2 linked regions of the Homo sapiens genome follow. The protein of the gene in region 1 interacts with the protein of each later gene in a pairwise test. Each region holds a gene or a part of one and is shown on either strand. Other genes may lie near its edges.

Evidence for each region.
Region 2: the proteins of SPATA6 (region 1) and GEM interact in binary tests that used the Homo sapiens proteins (3 or more experiments, as listed by UniProt).

The regions. Positions count from the first base shown.
Region 1 is NC_000001.11:48,461,924-48,469,233, reverse strand, and holds part of SPATA6 (spermatogenesis-associated protein 6 isoform 1 precursor), read left to right. Parts: intron 1-7,310. UniProt on the Homo sapiens protein: Required for formation of the sperm connecting piece during spermiogenesis. Sperm connecting piece is essential for linking the developing flagellum to the head during late spermiogenesis.
Region 2 is NC_000008.11:94,248,642-94,252,518, forward strand, and holds the end of GEM (GTP-binding protein GEM), read right to left. Parts: intron 3,583-3,877; coding exon 3,378-3,582; intron 2,125-3,377; coding exon of another isoform or gene 2,111-2,124; exon of another isoform or gene 1,947-2,110; coding exon 1,669-1,946; 3' UTR 612-1,668; downstream 1-611. UniProt on the Homo sapiens protein: Could be a regulatory protein, possibly participating in receptor-mediated signal transduction at the plasma membrane. Has guanine nucleotide-binding activity but undetectable intrinsic GTPase activity.

The sequences.
Region 1 (7,310 bases):
TATAAATTTTTTATTTTTTTGCTAAAAATTGAAAATAAATTGACATAATGATACTCCACCTGTAAGTACTTCAGCATGTGTCTTCTAAAAATAAGGATATTAGCTGGGTATGATGACAGGCACCTGTAGTTCCAGCTACTCAGGGGACTGAGGCAGGAGGATTACCTGAGCCCAGGAGTTTGAAGCTGTAGTATGCTGTGAGCACACCTGTGAGTAGCCCTGCACTCCAGCCTGGGCAACACAGTGAGACCCTGTCTCTTAAATAAATACATACGTAAATAAAATTAAAAAATAAGGAGATTGTTCTGTATAACCCCAACACCATTATTACACCTAAGATAATTGGTGAGAAATTCTTAATATTTAGTTCATATTCAAGTTTTTCTGGTTGTCCCAAACATGAGTTCCATAGTTAACTTTTTCAAACCGGGATCCAGTCAAGGTTTATATATTACCTTTAATCATTTGATTGATAGGTCTTTGTAGTTCATTTTAATATAGAGCAGTTCTATTTTTTTTTTATTCCCACAATGTTCCTTTTTTTTCCTCAGTTGGTTTTGGTCAATTCATACACTCATGTCACCATCACCCAGATCAAGATTTGGAACACTTCCATCACCCCTCGCAATTCCCTTGTTCCCCTTTCAGGTCCATTCCAGACAGAACTGCTTTCCAGAGAGAAATAAGTATAGGAGATGATGGAAATGTTAATTAGCTTGAATTAATCATTTCACAGTGTACATACCTGTAGCAAAACATCACTTTGTACAGTGTAAATATATGTAAGTTTTGACAAAAAAGAATGGATAAATATATTGTAGTATACACATACAATAGAATACTACTCCACAATTCAAAGGTACTACTGATAGAACCAACAACATGGATGAATCTCAAGAACATGCTGAGCAAAAGAAGTCAGATACTAAATATCACATACTATGTGGCTCCAATGTGAAGTTTAAGTACTGGCAAAGTAATCCATAGTGATAGAAATCGGAATAGTGTACACACACACCCCCTCACACACACACCTACCACATTTTCTTTATCCATTCATTCGTTGATGGACACTTAGGTTGCTTCCATATCATGAGTATGGTGAATAATGCAGCAATGAATATGAGAGTGCAGATCTCTTCCATATACTAATTTCCTTTGGATACATACCCAGAAGTGAGATTGCTGGATTATATGGTAGTTCTATTTTTTAATTATTTGAGGAAATTTTTCTTTTTTTAAATTATTTGAGGAAATATGCTTTTTGTAATGGCTCTTCTAATTTACATTTCTACCAACGGTGTACAAGGGTTCCCCTTTCTCCACATTCTTTCCAACACTTACAATTTTTTGAATTTATTATAGTAGTCGTTCTAACATGTGCGAGGGCATATCTTATTATATTTTTGATTTGCATTTCCCTGATGATTAGAGATGGTAAGCACCTTTTCATACACCTGTTGGCCATTTGAGATATCTAGTCAGACCTCTTGCCCATTTTTAAAATTAGGTTTTTTGTTTTCTTGCTATTGAGTTTGGGTCCTTACATATTTTGGATATTAACCGCTTATCAGATTTTCTCCATTCTGTATGTTTACTGTTAGTGGTTTCCTTTGCTGTGTAGAAGCTTTTTACTCTGATGCTATCCATTCTCTTGTTGATGGTTGTTTGGGTTGTTGCCAGGTTATGGTTATTATTGGATAATACTATTATGAATATTCATTCTTGTAAAAATCTTTTTGTGGACATTACCTTTTGAACATACTTGGCTCGGTTACAGAATAGTTCATGTTGTATTATTGCCTGATTTTTTCTTCTTTTTGTGGTGACATTCAGTTTTTTCCCAATTACTATAAACTGGAAACTAGGTGTTATCTTTGATTGCCTGTTGAAAGTTGCAATCTCATTCTTCTCTACCCCTTCCATGCTTACTTTTTGCTGAAGTTTTGTGTTAGTGGTAATCTCATCTGTGTAATACTTTAGTAATATGAAAGTAAAAACATAGAAAGGTTTGGATGTGTCACACAACATTTTATGTTGCCCAACAGAGCCATATGACATGAGAGAAAATATATTGCTAAGAGGAAAGTGACTTTTCTCAATGAGTCTTTGGAGAATGACATAGTATGCTAAGTAACTTGTTTTTAAAGAGCATCAAAAGAATTATATTTTCCATCACTTACATTTTAAATCTTTAAAACTTTTGTCTTTGATGGGAAGAAGTATTATTGCTGCTTTATCTCTTTACCTTCTTTTTATATTTAATATTTCAATTTTTATGAGCTTATTTGGGAAAATGGAAGATATTGGAGGTAAAGTAATAGTGTCAATTTGGGATTGCATGTAATTCTCACTTCATCTCATTACCTAACTGAAACTAATGATAGCACTGTGGCAGACAGATCTGGCTTCTTTCAGTCACTACTCATCTGAATATTTATCTTTGTGATCCTTATCCAGGTTACTGTAGGTAGTGTCTCAGTCACAGTTAAGCCACAGTTGGTGGTAAATTTCGCTGGAATATAGACTTTAAAAAATTTTAACTATAAAATAGTTCAAATTTATAGAAAAAAAAAACTGAATCCTTTGATGCCCCACCCCCCATTTAACAAATGATAAATTTTACATGTTTGCTGCAGATTTTTGTTTTTAAGAAATATAATGTTGCATGTAGGTGAGGCCTCCTCTGTACCTTTTACCTCTTCCTGACCACTTTTTCCTCCCTACCTTCCTTAAAATAACTAATATCCTGAAGTTGTAGTGTATTGTTTGTTCAGATTTTTGTACTTATTACTAAGTATTTGTGTATGTCTGTGTATAACCTATGCTGTAGTTTTGTTTTTAAATTTTGCACAAATAGTATCTTACTTGTATGTATCCTTCTGCAACCTGCTTTTTCTGATTCACTGTTTTTGAGATTTTTCAGTGTTGATTCTTGCAGGTCTAGTTCATTTCCTTCATTAGTATAAAATGGTATATGTTTATATTAACAGTGATATAATTTTTGTTCCTCTCTTAATGGACTTTTTATTAAATACTAGTAGTTAATGCTTTTTATTATTCAAAACAATGTTTCAATGAATATATTTGCACATATTTCCTAGTATCATTGTGTCTGTTGTTCTCAGGGGTGTATTGTGTGCCCTAGGGAGCATTTTACAAATTGACTAGACTACTTTTGTTTGTCACAGTGGTTGGGGAGTCCTGTGGTATTAATTGTTCGGTATCCTGCATGACTTGAATGTCTCATTGAATATGTAGATGAAAAACCTGTTTATAATTACTGGAGGTTAATAACATAATAGCAGTTGATAATCAATTATCTGTTTATTTATAAACACAAAGTCTTTTTAAAAGGTTTTTAAAACGCATTTTACAGTAATGCAATTGCCATGTAAATTGAGGAAAGAGTACACTTTGTTGGGTTTGGTGCTCTGCTAAGAGTTTACTTTTTTTGGAAAATCATGGCACCAGAGGCAATGCTGCTTGTGGTGTTTGAGTTGCTAGTGTGGGATGTTTATCATCTCACGTTTGAAACTGCCCATTTCACATAGATTCTGTGTATAGGTGCAAATATATCTTCCAGTGTAGTCTTGCCCAAGCATTTACATGTTAGAAATATGTATTTTCTTATAAAGTATTTCTGTATTTTTTCAAACTTTAATTAGGATATTGGTTTATTGTTTAGTTATATGTATAGGTAAGTTGAAAATATTTTCTGTAAAAGGATGATTTTGGGTCTTATAGAATGGTGACCCAGTGCTCTAGGGAGTAGATCTAGAAATGGAACTATTGAGTCTCAGGGTATCCGGTTAGTTTCCTAGGACTGTCATAACAAATTATCACAAACGTAGTTGCTTAAAACAACAGAAATTTATTCCCTCACATTTCTGGAGGCCAGAGTACAAAATAAAAGTGTCAGCAGAACGGTGCTCCTTTCAAAAGCTTTAGGGGAGAATCTTTCCTGCCTCTTCTAGTTTTTGATGGTTCCAGGCATTCCTTGGATTGTGGCTGCTTAACTCCAATCTTGGATCCTAGAGGTTTCCTTTTCTGTGACTACCAATATCCTTTGTCCTTTAAAAGTGTATTCTTGTTTTCTTCTTCTTGTTAAATATATTTTGGATACTAAACCTTTATTGGTTATGTGTAATGGAATTTTCAAAGATCGTCTAGTTGAAGTTTATATTTTACTTTGTTTTTGCTCTTTTTAGTACTGCATGTTTTTCATTTTCTAATTTTTTCGTTTCTGGTAAACAAAGAATGCTATTGATTTTTAAAATGATTATTTTACTTGACAAACTTGTATATATTTATTGCGTTATTGATTTTTTAAATTAAGTTTTTTATGGAACTATAGCATATATTCATAAAGTACACAAATCGTAAATGTATAATCACCAATAATTAGAATATTATCAGAACCCCAGATTGCTCCATTGGGCTGTCTCCCTCCCGCCACTTCACCTACCCCTGTTCCTCTCCCAAAGGTAACCACATCTTGACTTCTCTTACAATATATTTTGAAGTTTTGAAATCTAGCTATATCTATCTATGATCTGTCTATTTTGTATGGTCTGAATTCTTTTATGTCTAACCAATTTGTGGGAGTTTATCCTTGTGGTTTATGAGGCAATAGCCCTTTTTTCCCTTCTTAAATGAATATAACACTATTTATTCTTCCTATTGTTGATGGACATTCTCATTGTTTCTAGTTTGGGGATATTACAAATTGTGCTCCTATGAGCATTCTTGTATATATCTTTGTTGCACATTTTATATTTTAATTTTGGATGCAACATTAAATAACATGAAATAACATTATTTCAATAGTTGTATTTTTTATGTGGAAAATGACGTTGTTTGAAAATAGACAGTTTTGACTTTTGCAGTACAATCCTTTGTTTTGTTTTGTTTTGTTTTGTTTGCCTTGTCTTTATGTTGATGGCTAGAATTTCTAGTATAGTGTTTAATGTTAGGGATAACAAAGTAGGTATCTTTGTCGTTTTTTCTAATTTTAAATTATGCTTCTGAAGTCTCACCATCATTAGACCAAATCCTATGAAATCGCTGATAATGGGCCATTTTTTTGGCTTAAAAAAACCTCAGCCATTTCAAATGTAGTTGAACCTAATAGAATATTGGCTGTAGGGTTTTCATTTATTGAGTTAGTGCAGTTCCCTTCTATTCTAATTTTAAAAAATCCTGAATGTTGAGTTATTTGGGATGTTTTTTTTTAATCCAGTGAAATTATTATATAATAATGCTTTCATAGTCTGTAAAAAAATGACACTTTTTGATGTTGAACTATTCCTATTCCTGTAATAAGTTCTTTTAAGTCAGGATGTACAGTTTTTACTCTATTTTGCTGGATTTGGTTGGCTAATTTTTTATTTAGGATCTTTTATTTGTATTTGTAGAGAGATTTTAGCTTTATGAGTCAACTACTTTTTTTCACTTATTTTTAAAACATTTATTTTGAAATATTTCAGACATATAGGAAGTTATAGAGTAACATTTAATGAACACCTGTGTACCCATCCAGGTGAAGCATCCTGTAAATCTCTGCCTAATAAAATCCCTTTTTCCTTCTTCTTTTTGGCCAATCGGTATCCTGAATTTTGTATTTACCACTTCTCTGCAATTTGCAATATTTTTTCTCATTGTAATATCTGCCTTTAAGGCACTTGATTTGCTTCCAGTTGCTGTTTAACTGGCATCTCAAAGCTATTGATAATGTTTTAAAATCATTTGGCTCTAAATATTTTATAATTTTTATTATGATTTCTACTTTAGCTTATGAACTATCTAGGATTTGTTTTAATTCCAAGATGCATAAGATTTACGTGTGTGTAACACTCTCCCATACTCATACTCTCCCCCCTACCTATACACATACATACCTACACATATACATATATATTATCTTTTATTGTGGTATTTTAATGAATTGCATTGGGGTCATGTATTAGGGTTCTCCAGAAAAACAGAACCAATAGGATATACTATATAGTTATTTAATAGGGAATTTATTATGGGGATTGGCTCACTTGATGACGGCTTTGCAGTCCCATGATATGCTGCCTGCAAGCTGTCTGCAAGCTGCAGAACCAGGGAAGCTTGGTGATGTAATTCAATCTGAGTACAAAGGCCTGAGAACCAGGTGTAAGTCTTGGAGTCTGAGGGGTTGAGAACCTGCAGTTCTGTTATCCCAGGGCAGGAAAAGATGGATGTCCGAGCTCAAGGAGAGAGAGCACATTTGCCCTTAATCTGACCTTTTGTTCTATCCTTGCACTCAACAGATGGTATAATCCCTGCCCACATTGGTGAGGGTGGTCTTTGTTACTCAATCTGCTGATTCAAATACTAATCTCTTATGGAAACATCCTCACAGACACACCAAGAAATAATGTTTACCAGCTACTCACGTATCCCTTAACCCAGTGAAGTAGATACATAAAATTAACCATCATAGCTAGTGAACAAGGTCTCTATGTTATTATGTTTGTTATTTCCTTTGTGTCCTGATACTTATCCAATTGTTGTAAATGCTCTCTACTTGCTTAAAATAATATATAATCTCATTTGTTGGATGTATGGCTCTATCTGTCATTATCACACCAATCTTACTTACTCTGAAATTCAATTCCATATTAAATTTTTTGTCTGCATGATCTACCCATTTGTAATGGAGAGGTATTAAAATCTTCACTATGATTATGTATTTTCACTTTATCCTTGATGTATTTCAGTACACTGTGATGTATAGAGCTGTGGATTTATTTGTTTATTCTGTTTTGCACTGGGTGTATGCTTTCCACTTCAGAATTTAAGGTTTTCTGTAGTTCTTGAAAATTCTTAGCTATCATATTATTTTTTATTTTTTGTTATTATTGTACTTTAAGTTTTAGGGTACATGTGCACAATGGGCCGGTTTGTTACATATGTATACATGTGCCATGCTGGTGTGCTGCACCCATTAACTCGTCATTTAGCATTAGGTATGTCTCCTAATGCTATCCCTCCCCGCTCCCCCCACCCCACAACAGTCCCCAGAGTGTGATGTTCCCCTTCCTGTGTCCATGTGTTCTCATTGTTCAATTCCCATCTATGAGTGAGAACATGCGGTGTTTGGTTTTTTGTCCTTGCGATAGTTTACTGAGAATGATGATTTCCAATTTCATCCATGTCCCTACAAAGGACATGAACTCATCATTTTTTATGGCTGCATAGTATGCCACGGTGTATATGTGCCACATTTTCTTAATCCAGTCTGTCACTGTTGGACATTTGGGTTGGTTCCAAGTCTGTGC
Region 2 (3,877 bases), on another chromosome or scaffold:
AAAAGCTAGGGAGAAGAGAATGAAATAGGGTGCATATAGGGCCAGAGAAGATGTGAAGGGAGAACACCAGAAGTTCCATTCCAGCAAAAGGGCTGCATACGGCCGCTGGATAGATGCCAAGTGATTAATGTCAAGCCATATTAATGTCAGAGAGGAGAATTTGGTGAAAGCTTTGCCTGGCTAGATCTCAGGCTGGAAATCACTAGATTCCTTTATTTTATTTCCCCCTAATCCTTTATAACTTCCTCTAATGCCTTAGTCAAGCTTAAGACCATCAGCCTCCAGGGAGCAAAGTGAAGCCCATCTGTTCAGTCAGGCATTTGCCAGACCAAAGTAAAAGGTCAATCTGGCTTTTCCTATAACAGCATTGAGATGACCCCAAATACTTCCCAACGGTATCAGCCAAAAACAACTTTGCATTACCGTGAATCGTGATTTCAAAGCAGAGATGTCAGGGATATCCTTTAAAACGGATAATGACTGGGCTATTGCTAGTGAGAAAAAGAAAGAAAACAATAGGCATATGTCTCTTTGGAATGTGCTTGCTCTAAAGGCTGTATAAAAATAATCCTAATCATCTTGTTTGGGGAGGAAAATCAATCAAGAATGCCTTTTTTCAAATATTTTATTTCTTTTATTATAAGACATATAGGTAAAAACTTGCATATTTTGAAAAAGATAGAAAATGGTAATAAAATGGATATTTTTCTTATTAAGAAATATGTTCATAAATATGCTTTATCAAATGTTAAAATGGTTATTTTGCAAAATAATAATAAATAGAGCAGAGCTGTGACATACAAGGGTCAACCAAAGTACTGGAAGTTTTTATGCTATATGTTTTATAAAAATTCAGACTTCTGATTATACATTAAAAATTGACATTTTGCACTACAGGGTATCAATAATTCTGATTTTAAAAATATTTTTATGATGGCTCCATGAATTCAAAAATAATAAAACATAAAAGGTGGTTTGACTAAATAGAATCTGATTCAAATAATTTCCCCCTAAATAAGAAATTGTAAGATATAATTTTTGAGCCTATAAGGGACACATGTATCAGTTCCCAATTCTATATGTCTTGGTGGGCATTGAACAAAAATTGTTTGCTAAGCCTTTGTTTCCAGCAAGGTCCACATCATTTCTTTTCACAGTTTGATGGAGCAATAATAGTCACGATTCTGATGAGCCTAGTTCTACAATTCTAGCTCCATGGATCTTAGATTCGTAGAAAGTTTTCCCTCCTTTGAAGAAACTCATTGACAGCTTTCTTATATTTGTTTATGACTCATTGGCCTCAAAGTCACATATCAGAACACTGGGAAAAATTTTTAATGATGAAAAGTTCTTGTTCTAGGCATTCTTTGTAAGCTTTACTTCTCTACTATCCAAAATAGAAGAAACACATGTGAACACCAAACACATCCTCTAAAGAGTCTTGGGTGTTCAAATAGCAAGGTCAGGCTTTTCCTGGAAATAAATACTGACTTTTTACAAAAATCTTTCATTTCCCATGCATCATGTTGCCCACAAGGCTAATACGCTAGCTCCCTGCTACAATGGGGGAAACCACATCTAACTTAAGTATTCAATCTAATATAGATTATTGGTCCCAATGGCCTTCAACAACGGCCATCAAAGGGACATCTGGGTGACCCTGGGTTCCTAGAGTACAGAGAGGTCATGGCAGGATTTGGACTTGAGCTTGAAGGCCATATTCTTGTTGTTTTTGGCCACGATCTTGCCCCAGAAGCGCCTGGCTTTCCTGGGCATGCTCTCCTTCCTTTTCTGGTAGGCCAGCCGCCGTTCATTCTTCTCCTTGCTGTCCCGCCGAAGGCGCACCTGTCGCACAATGCCCTCAAACAGCTCCTTCACGTTGTGCTGGACAGCTGCAGAGGTCTCGATGAACTTGCAGTCAAACACCACTGCACAGGCTCTCCCTTCTGGGAAGGAAAGAAAGAGGTCAGAGGGACTGCAGAGCACAGTCCCACATAGCACACAGTCAAGCTGGATGGTTCTTCGAGGTAACACTAAGTCAGCTGTATATGCAGTGGATAGAGGATGCTGCTGCGGCATGGGCCCTCCCAGGGCATGAATAGAAAATGTCTCACTGGAGGGTCCCTGGAAGTAAGGGAGATGGGCTTTAGATCTGATCCCCCATAAATTCACTGTCTGAAGGTCCCATTTCATCAAATATAGTGATATTAGTTATAACAGTAAAAGCCATACCCTTAATTTACTGCTGACTTACAATGTGCCAAGAACAAGGCTAAGTTCTTTATAAACACTGTTTTCAATGTCCACAACAATCTTGGAAAATACATTATTATCCCTGTCAAATACATGAAGAAACCGAGGGGAGTCTCCTCTGCAGGTGAAGTTCACACAGCCTGTAAGTGGCAGTGAAGCCAGGTCTGCTCAGTTCTCAAGCCCATACTCAACTCTTTCTCCTGACCCAGTTTCCAGAATTGGAAATAAGAATTCTACTGCTTAGCTTTCCTCTCTTTTAAAATAAAAATAAAAATAAAGCAATAATGAGATATCTTGGGAAAAAATTGAGAATTTTACAAATGTGTAATACAGTTAAATTATACAAGCTTTTCTGGGACAGTCTCAATTTCAAGTATTTCATTGCATTCAATGACCATGCATCAAGTTTTGGTTTGGAAAAAAAATGATTACTGTAGACAGTTGTGTCCTAGTAGGAAGACATTCCCAAACTAGTGTGTACATTGTCTTTATCAGGTGTCTTTCCTCCTGAGCAGGGCCCGGCAATGTAGTATTTTAGTTTTATAATTGTACCAGGATCAAATCTGAATTAGGCCAGTAAAATCTCAAGGGCTATAAAAGCACTTGGCTGCCCACTCAGCAGATAGAGATTTTCCCTGAGCTAAGTATGAAGAAGAATATGTGACCCCATCAGACTGATGCCTCAAATGAAATTTCAGAAGCCAGGGATGGGGAGTAGGAGAGTAGGACAGTGTTTCTAGGGCTCACAGGAACCAGAGTCAGCCAGAGTAGAATTCTTTTTCCTCAATGAAACTCTTTCTCACAGTTCCCCTAAATCAGAGTTCCCTATCCTCCTTGCATGAAGATGCTACTTTCATTTCCCTGTACTCTTGGGAATTCCAGGAAACTCCTTAAAAGCGGGAGGATTAGTATCCTGCAGGTAGACCAGATGGACAAGGGAGAACAACTAGTGTGGAGGAGACCCACTGGGACTGTAGGAGTCTGAGAAACACACCTAAAATTTCATATAGCATCTTAATGAGTTCCTAGATCCAGCCTCGTGGAAGGAGGGAAGAACCCGTGTCTGAAGGAAAACACATGTGATCCAGCGATTGTTTCTACAGTATTGGCTCTGCTCCTCTTACCTGATACAGACACTTCTCGGCACCGCACTAAGTCACTTTTGTTGCCAACCAAAATTATGGGAATGTCCTCTGTCTGCCGGGCCCTGCGGAGCTGGATTCGCAGCTCAGATGCCTTCTCGAAGCTCGCTCGGTCTGTGATTGAGTAGACAATCAGGTATGCGTCCCCGACCTGCATGCAGTGGTCATGGAGCCATTCATTTTCCCCCTAATGAAACAATAAGATCTTCTGTGAGTTCAGTTAGGCCTGGGGAATAAAGCATCAGTTTGCAAAGAAACAATATGTGTATCCTAAAGTACACTTGCTGATAGGAAAAATAGGAAAAAGGAAGAAAATCGCTTCCAACTCCCTAAAAGCATTGGTCTTCTATGCCTATAAGATGTCTGGTGGCTGTAAAGATTGCTAGCCTGTCCAGTATTTATGCCAAAAAGTTTTCACTTTTCAGTATCTTCTACAGCTTGATTTGATAAATTACACAACTTCTCTGCCAAACAGCATTTCC